2 separate regions of the Homo sapiens genome follow, and region 2 is linked to region 1. The links come from fine-mapping of genetic effects on gene expression. A gene starts in region 1. The other region holds a variant in brackets. All regions are shown on one strand. Distances are from middle to middle. Region 1 holds the start of ZNF30 (zinc finger protein 30). Region 2 has its middle 3.4 kb from the start of LINC03049.

What was found. PIP is the estimated chance that this variant, and not a neighbour inherited with it, causes the effect.
Region 2: its variant is the best candidate, but not a certain one, in a credible set for the expression of ZNF30 in whole blood (TOPMed, PIP 0.50).

The regions. Positions count from the first base shown.
Region 1 is chr19:34,923,829-34,929,043 of GRCh38, forward strand. It overlaps ZNF30 (zinc finger protein 30), which reads left to right and starts at 3,075. Exons shown (of 5, transcript NM_194325.3): 1 at 3,075-3,388. It overlaps ZNF30-AS1 (ZNF30 antisense RNA 1), which reads right to left and starts at 2,998. Exons shown (of 3, transcript NR_110749.1): 1 at 2,901-2,998; 2 at 1-6.
Region 2 is chr19:34,861,405-34,866,619 of GRCh38, forward strand. It overlaps the pseudogene LOC401913. Among named protein-coding and RNA genes, the nearest start is that of LINC03049, 3.4 kb to the left of the region's middle. The variant A/G (reference allele first, on the strand shown) is at 2,432.

The DNA of each region.
Region 1 (5,215 bases):
CGGCCACTATCCTAGTTGGAAACACAATTTGGTAAGTGGTTATTCTTTTCAGATAAACGTATGGAACTTAGACGAAATATATTTCAGGAAATGCAGTGAGAAACATTATAAGGGGGAAAGTTCTGCTCTCCTAGATTAGAACATCACTGACAGTGGCCAGAGAAAGTTTCCTGAGGGATCAGGGACTGTCATTTTCCACTGGATGCTCAGATTCCAGCTGTAGGGTTTGTGAGTATCCTTCCTCCCTCTTCCATGAGACAGCCTCATCTGAAATCTCCAATTTACCTCTGACGATTAAACACCTAGACCCTCACTATAGTCACACAAGTCTTCACTCAAAACACAAGGGCATAGCAGTAAGATTGCGATCCTTAGCTGTCATCTATGGAGTGATCACTTTTGAGGGGCACTTTTTGAATAAATCATTTCAAAATCATTTCAAAAATTTTCTCAAAAAAAAAACCCTATGATTTAAAAATTTCTTTGACATTCTAAGTATTCTACTAATCTATTTTATTTCTACCCACCATGGAACCCACATTTCCCTCTGCAAAATACAAATTTCTATTGTATTCACCCCTCACCCCTGAACATAAATTTATCCTCCCAAACAAATTTCTGCCCAGATGACATTTTGACGGCTATTTACACATCCCCATCTCAGAGAGCACATTGTACATAATTTGGCCCTTAATGCAGCCTCTATGAAAAGTCCTTTAATCAGGGGACTAGATGAGTCCTTATTTGTCTTGAATGTCTCTAGTTCCTCCAGGACAGAAGTGATCAGTGACCACAGCCAGTTCAGGAATCACAGGATATTGCAAATTTGTCTCCGATTGACATGAATTGGGTGGATTCTCACTCCAGGTCTATCACCTTCTTATTTGTTAATGAAATATTTGTCTTCAGACATTGTAATAGATACCCAATGAGTTTCAGAGGGTTTGAAAATGAACACTTTAGACATGAATAGCCTATATGGTGAACTTACAGAGGCAAAGCGACTGGTCAACAAACAGCTGCTCTACCAAAAAAGCCTGGAGTTACAAAGCAGATGAACATTTTTGCAGAGCTGGAAACTAATTCCAATAAGGCTAAAAACTTGCTACTGCTGGTAGGGAAAATCCTAACTATTGACAGTCAAATGCTTTTGATGCGAGGCTACTTAGGTTGATGTTGATAAGAGAAAAGTTCCCTTGTCCCCCTGGCAGGGCGTGCGATGGGGGTGTGGCTCGCTTCTTCAGTGTCCCGCTGCTCAAACCTCCAGGGGAGTATACAGACGGGCGGGCTGTGGGGCTCTGACCCCATGGCAGTGTCTAGGGGTGAATGTTTATAGCTGAAGCCCCAGTGGGCGTGTTACAGGATGCTCTTTAGCTGTCCGCAGGCGGCTTATGTTAGTCAATTCAATTAGATCCCTGCGTTATCGCAAGGACAGAGGGCTTTCATATCCCGGGGTTCCTGTCTTGGTGTACCAGAAGAATCAGATCACACATGGGCTTGGAGGATGACTGCAGGGTTTTGAGTGGAAGTAGCTCTCAACAGTTGGGGGAGCCAGAAGGGAAATGGTTTTCCCCTGGAATCGGGCTGCTCCGCAGCACCGGCTCTCCTTGGACTGCCCCAGCCAAACTCCGCGTCCTTCTGGTGGGTGGCCTGCCCGCGTGCCAGCGTCTGTCATGTCTTCTTCCGCCAACATGTTCCTCTGGATGTCCAGCGGCTTGTGTGTCTGCTTGCTAGGGTCTCAGAGTATTTATAGGGACAGGATGGGGGCGGGAACAGGATGGGGGCGTGGCAGGCCAGGGTGGTCTTGGGAAACGCAACATTTGGGCAGGAAAACAAAAATGCCTGCCCTCACCTAGGTCAGTTGGCACAGGGCCAGGGGTGGAGCCCTAGCCAGGGACCACACCCTCCTGTACCCAGCACCTCCCTTTCCCCCTTCCATATCATTTAAAGGGACCCCGCCCTTCCCTCCCCAGCACTCCCCTTCCCCACCTCCTTATCAATGTCATCACCCTGGACTGACTCCAGGAATCACTGTAATGTGGGCTTAATAAGAACAGAGCTCGGCTGGCCGCGGTGGCTCACCCTGTCATCCCAGCACTTTGGGAGGCTGAGGCGGGTGGATCGCTTGAGCCCAGGAGTTCGAGACTAGCCTGGGCAAGATGGCAAAACCCCATTTCTACAAAAAATATACAAAAATTAGCCAGGTGTAGTGGCGCGCCCCTGTAGTCTCAGCTACTCTGGAGGCCGAGGTGGGAGAATCACTTGAACCTGGGAGGCAGAGGTTACAGTAAGCCGAGATAGCGCCACTGCATTCCAGTCTGAGCGACAGAGGGAGACCCTGTCTCAAAACAAAACAAAAACAAAACAAACAAAAAGCGGAGCTGACAGTCAAGGTGAATTTCACGTTTGCCTGTATTCAGTTTTAGCATTACATAAACCAAAAGAAGAATGCCATAAAGGCTACAGGCAGCTAATACAGAGAGGTGTTACTGGAAAAGGAACCAGAAAGAGTAAATATCTCCTAAACGTATGATGGGACAGAAAGATAAATGCCTATTACATATAGTTAATATCTGTTTGATTAGCCTTATTTACATTCTCCTTTTAAAAGGTCTTACATTTAGCATCTTAGATAGAACCCACAAAATTTAAATATTTAATAGAAACTTAAAATTCCTGTATCAGAGGACAGAAATATATTTTTCTCACACGTGATTAGTCTAATTGCCACTATTAATCCTATTAATATTCTGTTAAATAATAGCATTTCTGTAGCGAAAAGCAAACAGTACGGAAAGATAATTTCAAACACCTAGTTTTCATATTTTTGTGTTAAAGTAATAACATATTTTGGTATAGATTATCATTTTTTGTTTGTTTTTGTTTTTGCTTTTTCTGACCTGGTGTGTTAATGCCCTGGGTTGGCCCTCTAAGAAGCTGGCCACCTACTTCGGGCCTCAGGTGTCAGACGCCCCAGCTTCGAGGTCTATGGCTCCCAGCAACTCGAGCGCCTGCGCCTGCGCATTCTCAGCCGGACGGGAGCGCCCAGAAGTCTCCGGGCGCCGGTGGGCGGCCTTGTGGACTGCGCCGGGCATGCTCGGCGGTGTGACGGCTCAGGACTGCATTTCCCAGAGGCTGCAGCTATCCGGCCAATGTAGCCTGAAACTACATTTCTCAGCGGCCACTGGAACGACCTCAATCTCTGCCTCCTCGCCAGTTCATTGTGGTCGTTGACCCGGCAGCGAGCTTTGGAGTTCATCGAGGGAGAAGTCAGCGCCCAGCTCCGAGGTTGGAGCAGCCCCGCCGGGCAACTTGAATTTCTGCAAACGAACACAGCACCGGGAGCTCTGCAGACCTGTGTCGGCGCGGAACCCGGACTGAGACATGCGTGAGCGTTGGGTGGACCGGGCGAGGATCCCGGGCCGGCGAGTGCGGGAGCGGCAGGGCAGGGAGGGTGCGTCGGCCGGGGCCGGTGTGCATCCGCGAAGACTGGGTGCATGGCCTCCATGCGAACCTGAGCTATTAATATTTGTTACTATTTTGGATAAAATCACTGTAATTGATTTATGTAAAGGAGCAAAAGACTCTTCAACTCTCAGTTTAAAAAGGAAACGATAGTTATGATACCTTTTGCATGCAGCGGGAAGAAATGGGATTGCCAGGAAGCCTCTTCTTGTTTGGAAAAAACTGTATAAAGTATTTACACCTTTTAAAGATGAGAGCAATGTCATCTGAAAATTATCAGTGCAGGGAAAAGGACTTCAAAGGATCTGTTGTGCAGATTACTTAACTAATGACAAAATTATGTAAGAAAGGAGAGCAAGATGACAGCTGTAAACATTTCCATCAATCTCCATATTGCACAGAAATAGGACCCAGCTTTTTCTTAAGGTTCTTCAATTTTGCATTATCCCACAGCAGTAGCTCTCTCTCTCTAGCTGCTAGGGGACAGAGGAAATTGAAATGTCAGAGAATCTTTTCTGTTGGTTTTTTATTTGTTTGTTTTTAAAGAAGAGTTGCTCTTAATTTTTTAGTTAGAATTAAAAGAAAGCATGCCAGAGAAACTTACGTTTTAAGTAAAAAGTGGAAACAGGTCGGGTGCCATGGCTCATGCCTGTAATCCCAGCACTTTGGGAAGCTGAGGCGGGTGGATTGCCTGAGCTCAGGAGTTCGAGACCACCAACATGGCAACATGGTGAAACCCCGTCTCTACTAAAAATATAAAAATTAGCCAGGCATGGTGGCGTGCGCTTGTAGTCACAGCTACTTGAGAGGCGGAGGTGGGAGAAGTGCTTGAAGCTGGGAGGCGGCGGAGGTTGCAGTGAGTGGAGATGGCACCACCGCAATCCAGCCTGGGCGACAGAGCGAGATCCCTTCTCTAAAAAAAAAAAAATATATATATATATATATATATATATATATATATAGATAGATAGATAGATAGATACATAAATTAAATTAAGTGGAAACAAGTGTTTAATTAAAATGAAATAAAGGATGTATAATGTTTACGTAATAACTCCAATGCAGTAGTGCCCCCTTAATCGGCAGTTTCACTTTCTTCACTTTGTTACCCTCAGTCAACCATGATCTGAAAATAGGTGATTTTGGTACAATAAGATATTTTGAGAGAGAGGGGCCATGTTCACATAACTTTTATTACAGTATGCTATTATAGTTGTTCTATTTTATTATTAGTTATTGCTATTACTCAATTATGGTGGCCGGGTGCGGTGGCTCACGCCTGTAATCCCAGCACTTTGGGATACTGAGATGGGTGGATCAATTGAGGTCAGGAGTTCGAGACCAGCCTGGCCAACATGGTGAAACCCTGTCTCTAGTAAAAATACAAAAATTAGCCAGGCGTGGTGGTGGGCACCTGTAATCCCAGCTACTTGGGAGGCTCCCAGGAGGTGGAGGTTGCAGTGAGCCAAGATCACACCACTGCACTCCAGCCTGGGCAACAGAGTGAGACCCTGTCTCAAACAAACAAACAAACAGAAAAATAAAAATCTCTTATGGTGCCTAATTTATAAATTAAACTTAATCATAGGTGTGTATGTATAAGAAAAAACATAGTATATATGGGGTTCCGTCAGACATCTACTGAGGATCTTAGAGTGTATCTCCCCCCTGTGGATAAGAGGGAGCTACCATAGTAAGAGCTAACTCGGCTGCGCGCGGTGGCTCACGCCTGTAATCCCAGCACTTTGGG
Region 2 (5,215 bases), 62 kb before region 1:
GCAGAAGCCTCAGGAGCCGATGCGATCAACTGGAAGAAAGGGTATCAGCAATGGAAGATGAAATGAATGAAATGAAGCGAGAAGGGAAGTTTAGAGAAAAAAGAATAAAAAGAAATGAGCAAAGCCTCCAAGAAATATGGGACTATGTGAAAAGACCAAATCTACGTCTGATTGGTGTACCTGAAAGTGATGGGGAGAATGGAACCAAGTTGGAAAACACTCTGCAGGATATTATCCAGGAGAACTTCCCCAATCTAGCAAGGCAGGCCAACGTTCAGATTCAGGAAATACAGAGAACGCCACAAAGATACTCCTCAAGAAGAGCAACTCCAAGACACATAATTGTCAGATTCACCAAAGTTGAAATGAAGGAAAAAATGTTAAGGGCAGCCAGAGAGAAAGGTCGGGTTACCCTCAAAGGGAAGCCCATCAGACTAACAGCGGATCTCTCAGCAGAAACCCTACAAGCCAGAAGAGAGTGGGGGCCAATATTCAACATTCTTAAAAGAATTTTCAACGCAGAATTTCATATCCAGCCAAACTAGGCTTCATAAGTGAAGGAGAAATAAAATACTTTACAGACACGCAAATGCTGAGAGATTTTGTCACCACCAGGCCTGCCTTACAAGAGCTCCTGAAGGAAGCACTAAACATGGAAAGGAACAACCAGTCCCAGCCGCTGCAAAATCATGCCAAAATGTAAAGACCATCGAGACTAGGAAGAAACTGCATCAACTAACGAGCAAAATAACCAGCTAACATCATAATGACAGGATCAAATTCACACATAATAATATTAACTTTAAATGTCAATGTACTAAATGCTCCAATTAAAAGACACAGACTGGCAAATTGGATAAAGAGTCAAGACCCATCAGTGTGCTGTATTCAGGAAACCCATCTCATGTGCAGAGTCACACATCGGCTCAAAATAAAAGGATGGAGGAAGATCTACCAAGCCAATGGAAAACAAAAAAAGGCAGGGATTGCAATCCTAGTCTCTGATAAAACAGACTTTAAACCAACAAAATTCAAAAGAGACAAAGAAGGCCATTACATAATGGTAAAGGGATCAATTCAACAAGAAGAGCTAACTATCCTAAATATATATGCACCCAGTATAGGAGCACCAAGATTCATAAAGCAAGTCCTGAGTGACCTACAAAGAGACTTAGACTCCCACACATTAATAATGGGAGACTTTAACACCCCACTGTCAACATTAGACAGATCAATGAGACAGAAAGTCAAGAAGGATACCCAGGAATTGAACTCAGCTCTGCACCAAGCAGACCTAATAGACATCTACAGAACTCTCCACCCCAAATCAACAGAATATACATTTTTTTCAGCACCACACCACACCTATTCCAAAATTGACCACATAGTTGGAAGTAAAGCTCTCCTCAGCAAATGTAAAAGAACAGAAATTATAACAAACTATCTCTCAGACCACAGTGCAATCAAACTAGAACTCAGGATTAAGAATCTCACTCAAAACCGCTCAACTACATGGAAACTGAACAACCTGCTCCTGAATGACTACTGGGTACATAATGAAATGAAGGCAGAAATAAAGATGTTCTTTGAAACCAACGAGAACAAAGACACAACATACCAGAATCTCTGGGATGCATTCAAAGCAGTGTGTAGAGGGAAATTTATAGCACTAAATGCCCACAAGAGAAAGCAGGAAAGATCCAAAATTGACACCCTAACATCACAGTTAAAAGAACTAGAAAAGCAAGAGCAAACACATTCAAAAGCTAGCAGAAGGCAAGAAATAACTAAAATCAGAGCAGAACTGAAGGAAATAGAGACACAAAAAACCCTTCAAAAAATTAATGAATCCAGGAGCTGGTTTTTTGAAAGGATGAACAAAAGTGATAGACCACTAGCAAGACTAATAAAGAAAAAAAGAGAGATGAATCAAATAGACGCAATAAAAAATGATAAAGGGGATATCACCACCGATCCCACAGAAATACAAACTACCATCAGAGAATACTACAAACACCTCTACGCAAATAAACTAGAAAATCTAGAAGAAATGGATAAATTCCTCGACACATACACTCTCCCAAGACTAAACCAGGAAGAAGTTGAATCTCTGAATAGACCAATAACAGGAGCTGAAATTGTGGCAATAATCAATAGCTTACCAACCAAAAAGAGTCCGGGACCAGATGGATTCACAGCCGAATTCTACCAGAGGTACAAGGAGGAACTGGTACCATTCCTTCTGAAACTATTCCAATCAATAGAAAAAGAGGAAATCCTCCCTAACTCATTTTATGAGGCCAGCATCATTCTGATACCAAAGCCTGGCAGAGACACAATCAAAAAAGAGAATTTTAGACCAATATCCTTGATGAACACTGATGCAAAAATCCTCAATAAAATACTGGCAAAACGAATCCAGCAGCACATC[A/G]AAAAGCTTATCCACCATGATCAAGTGGGCTTCATCCCTGGGATGCAAGGCTGGTTCAATATACGCAAATCAATAAATATAATCCAGCATATAAACAGAGCCAAAGACAAAAACCACATGATTATCTCAATAGATGCAGAAAAAGCCTTTGACAAAATTCAACAACCCTTCATGCTAAAAACTCTCAATAAATTAGGTATTGATGGGACGTATTCCAAAATAATAAGAGCTATCTATGACAAACCCACAGCCAATATCATACTGAATGGGCAAAAACTGGAAGCATTCCCTTTGAAAACTGGCACAAGACAGGGATGCTCTCTCTCACCACTCCTATTCAACATAGTGTTGGAAGTTCTGGCCAGGGCAATTAGGCAGGAGAAGGAAATAAAGGGTATTCAATTAGGAAAAGAGGAAGTCAAATTGTCCCTGTTTGCAGACGACATGATTGTATATCTAGAAAACCCCATTGTCTCAGCCCAAAATCTCCTTAAGCTGATAAGCAACTTCAGTAAAGTCTCAGGATACAAAATCAATGTACAAAAATCACAAGCATTCTTATACACCAACAACAGACAAACAGAGAGCCAAATCATGAGTGAACTCCCATTCACAATTGCTTCAAAGAGAATAAAATACCTAGGAATCCAACTTACAAGGGATGTGAAGGACCTCTTCAAGGAGAACTACAAACCACTGCTCAAGGAAATAAAAGAGGATACAAACAAACGGAAGAACATTCCATGCTCATGGGTAGGAAGAATCAATATCGTGAAAATGGCCATATTGCCCAAGGTAATTTACAGATTCAATGCCATCCCCATCAAGCTACCAATGACTTTCTTCACAGAATTGGAAAAAACTACTTTAAAGTTCATATGGAACCAAAAAAGAGCCCGCATCGCCAAGTCAATCCTAAGCCAAAAGAACAAAGCTGGAGGCATCACACTACCTGACTTCAAACTATACTACAAGGCTACAGTAACCAAAACAGCATGGTACTGGTACCAAAACAGAGATATAGATCAATGGAACAGAACAGAGCCCTCAGAAATAACGCCGCATATCTACAACTACCTGATCTTTGACAAACCTGAGAAAAACAAGCAATGGGGAAAGGATTCCCTATTTAATAAATGGTGCTGGAAAAACTGGCTAGCCATATGTAGAAAGCTGAAACTGGATCCCTTCCTTACACCTTATACAAAAATCAATTCAAGATGGATTAAAGACTTAAACGTTAGACCTAAAACCATAAAAACCCTAGAAGAAAACCTAGGCATTACCATTCAGGACATAGGCATGGGCAAGGACTTCATGTCTAAAACACCAAAAGCAATGGCAACAAAAGCCAAAATTGACAAATGGGATCTAATTAAACTAAAGATCTTCTGCACAGCAAAAGAAACTACCATCACAGTGAACAGGCAACCTACAAAATGGGAGAAAATTTTCGCAACCTACTCATCTGACAAAGGGCTAATATCCAGAATCTACAATGAACTCAAACAAATTTACAAGAAAAAAAACAAACAACCCCATCAAAAAGTGGGCGAAGGACATGAACAGACACTTCTCAAAAGAAGACATTTATGCAGCCAAAAAACCCAGGAAAATATGCTCATCATCACTAGCCATCAGAGAAATGCAAATCAAAACCACAATGAGATACCATCTCACACCAGTTAGAATGGCAATCATTAAAAAGTCAGGAAACAACAGGTGCTGGAGAGGATGTGGAGAAATAGGAACACTTTTACACTGTTGGTGGGACTGTAAACTAGTTCAACCATTGTGGAAGTCAGTGTGGCCATTCCTCAGGGATCTAGAACTAGAAATACCATTTGACCCAGCCATCCCATTACTGGATATATACCCAAAGGACTATAAATCATACTATTATAAAGACACATGCACATGTATGTTTATTGCGGCACTATTCACAATAGCAAAGACTTGGAACCAACCCAAATGTCCAACAATGATAGACTGGATTAAGAAAATGTGGCACATATACACCATGGAATACTATGCAGCCATAAAAAATGATGAGTTCATGTCCTTTGTAGGGACATGGATGAAACTGGAAACCATCATTCTCAGCAAACTATCGCAAGGACAAAACACCAAACACCGCATGTTCTCACTCATAGGTGGGAATTGAACAATGAGAACACATGGACACAGGAAGGGGAACATCACACTCCGGGGACTGTTGTGGGGTAGGGGGAGGGGGGAGGGATAGCATTAGGAGATATACCTAATGCTAAATGACGAGTTAATGGGTGCAGTACACCAACATGTCACATGTATACATATGTAACAAACCTGCACATTGTGCACATGTACCCTAAAACGTAAAGTATAATAACAAAAAAAAAGACAGGTGTAAGAAATTATAAAAGTATTAATTTTGGGAACTGATAAATGTCCATGAAATCTTCACAATTTATGTTCCTCTGCTGCAGTTCCAGCCAGTCCCTCCATTCGGGGTCCCTGACTTCCCACAACAACACACTTCATGGGGGGACATAGGGTGAACTACTACACTTCACCAACCAGCCAGGACACATTCCACACATCAAGCTCTGAGAGGGATGGCAGATGGTCATCCTCCAGGTCCAGAGCTATGCCCACTGGCAGGACATCACCAGGCACCGCATGGAGGTGATCAGCAACTTTTCCCAGCAGCACTTCCTCGGGGAGGTGGATTACCTTGTGTGTGCAGATGTGGACATGAAGTTCAACAACCATGTGGGTGTGGAGATCCTCTCTTCCCTGTTT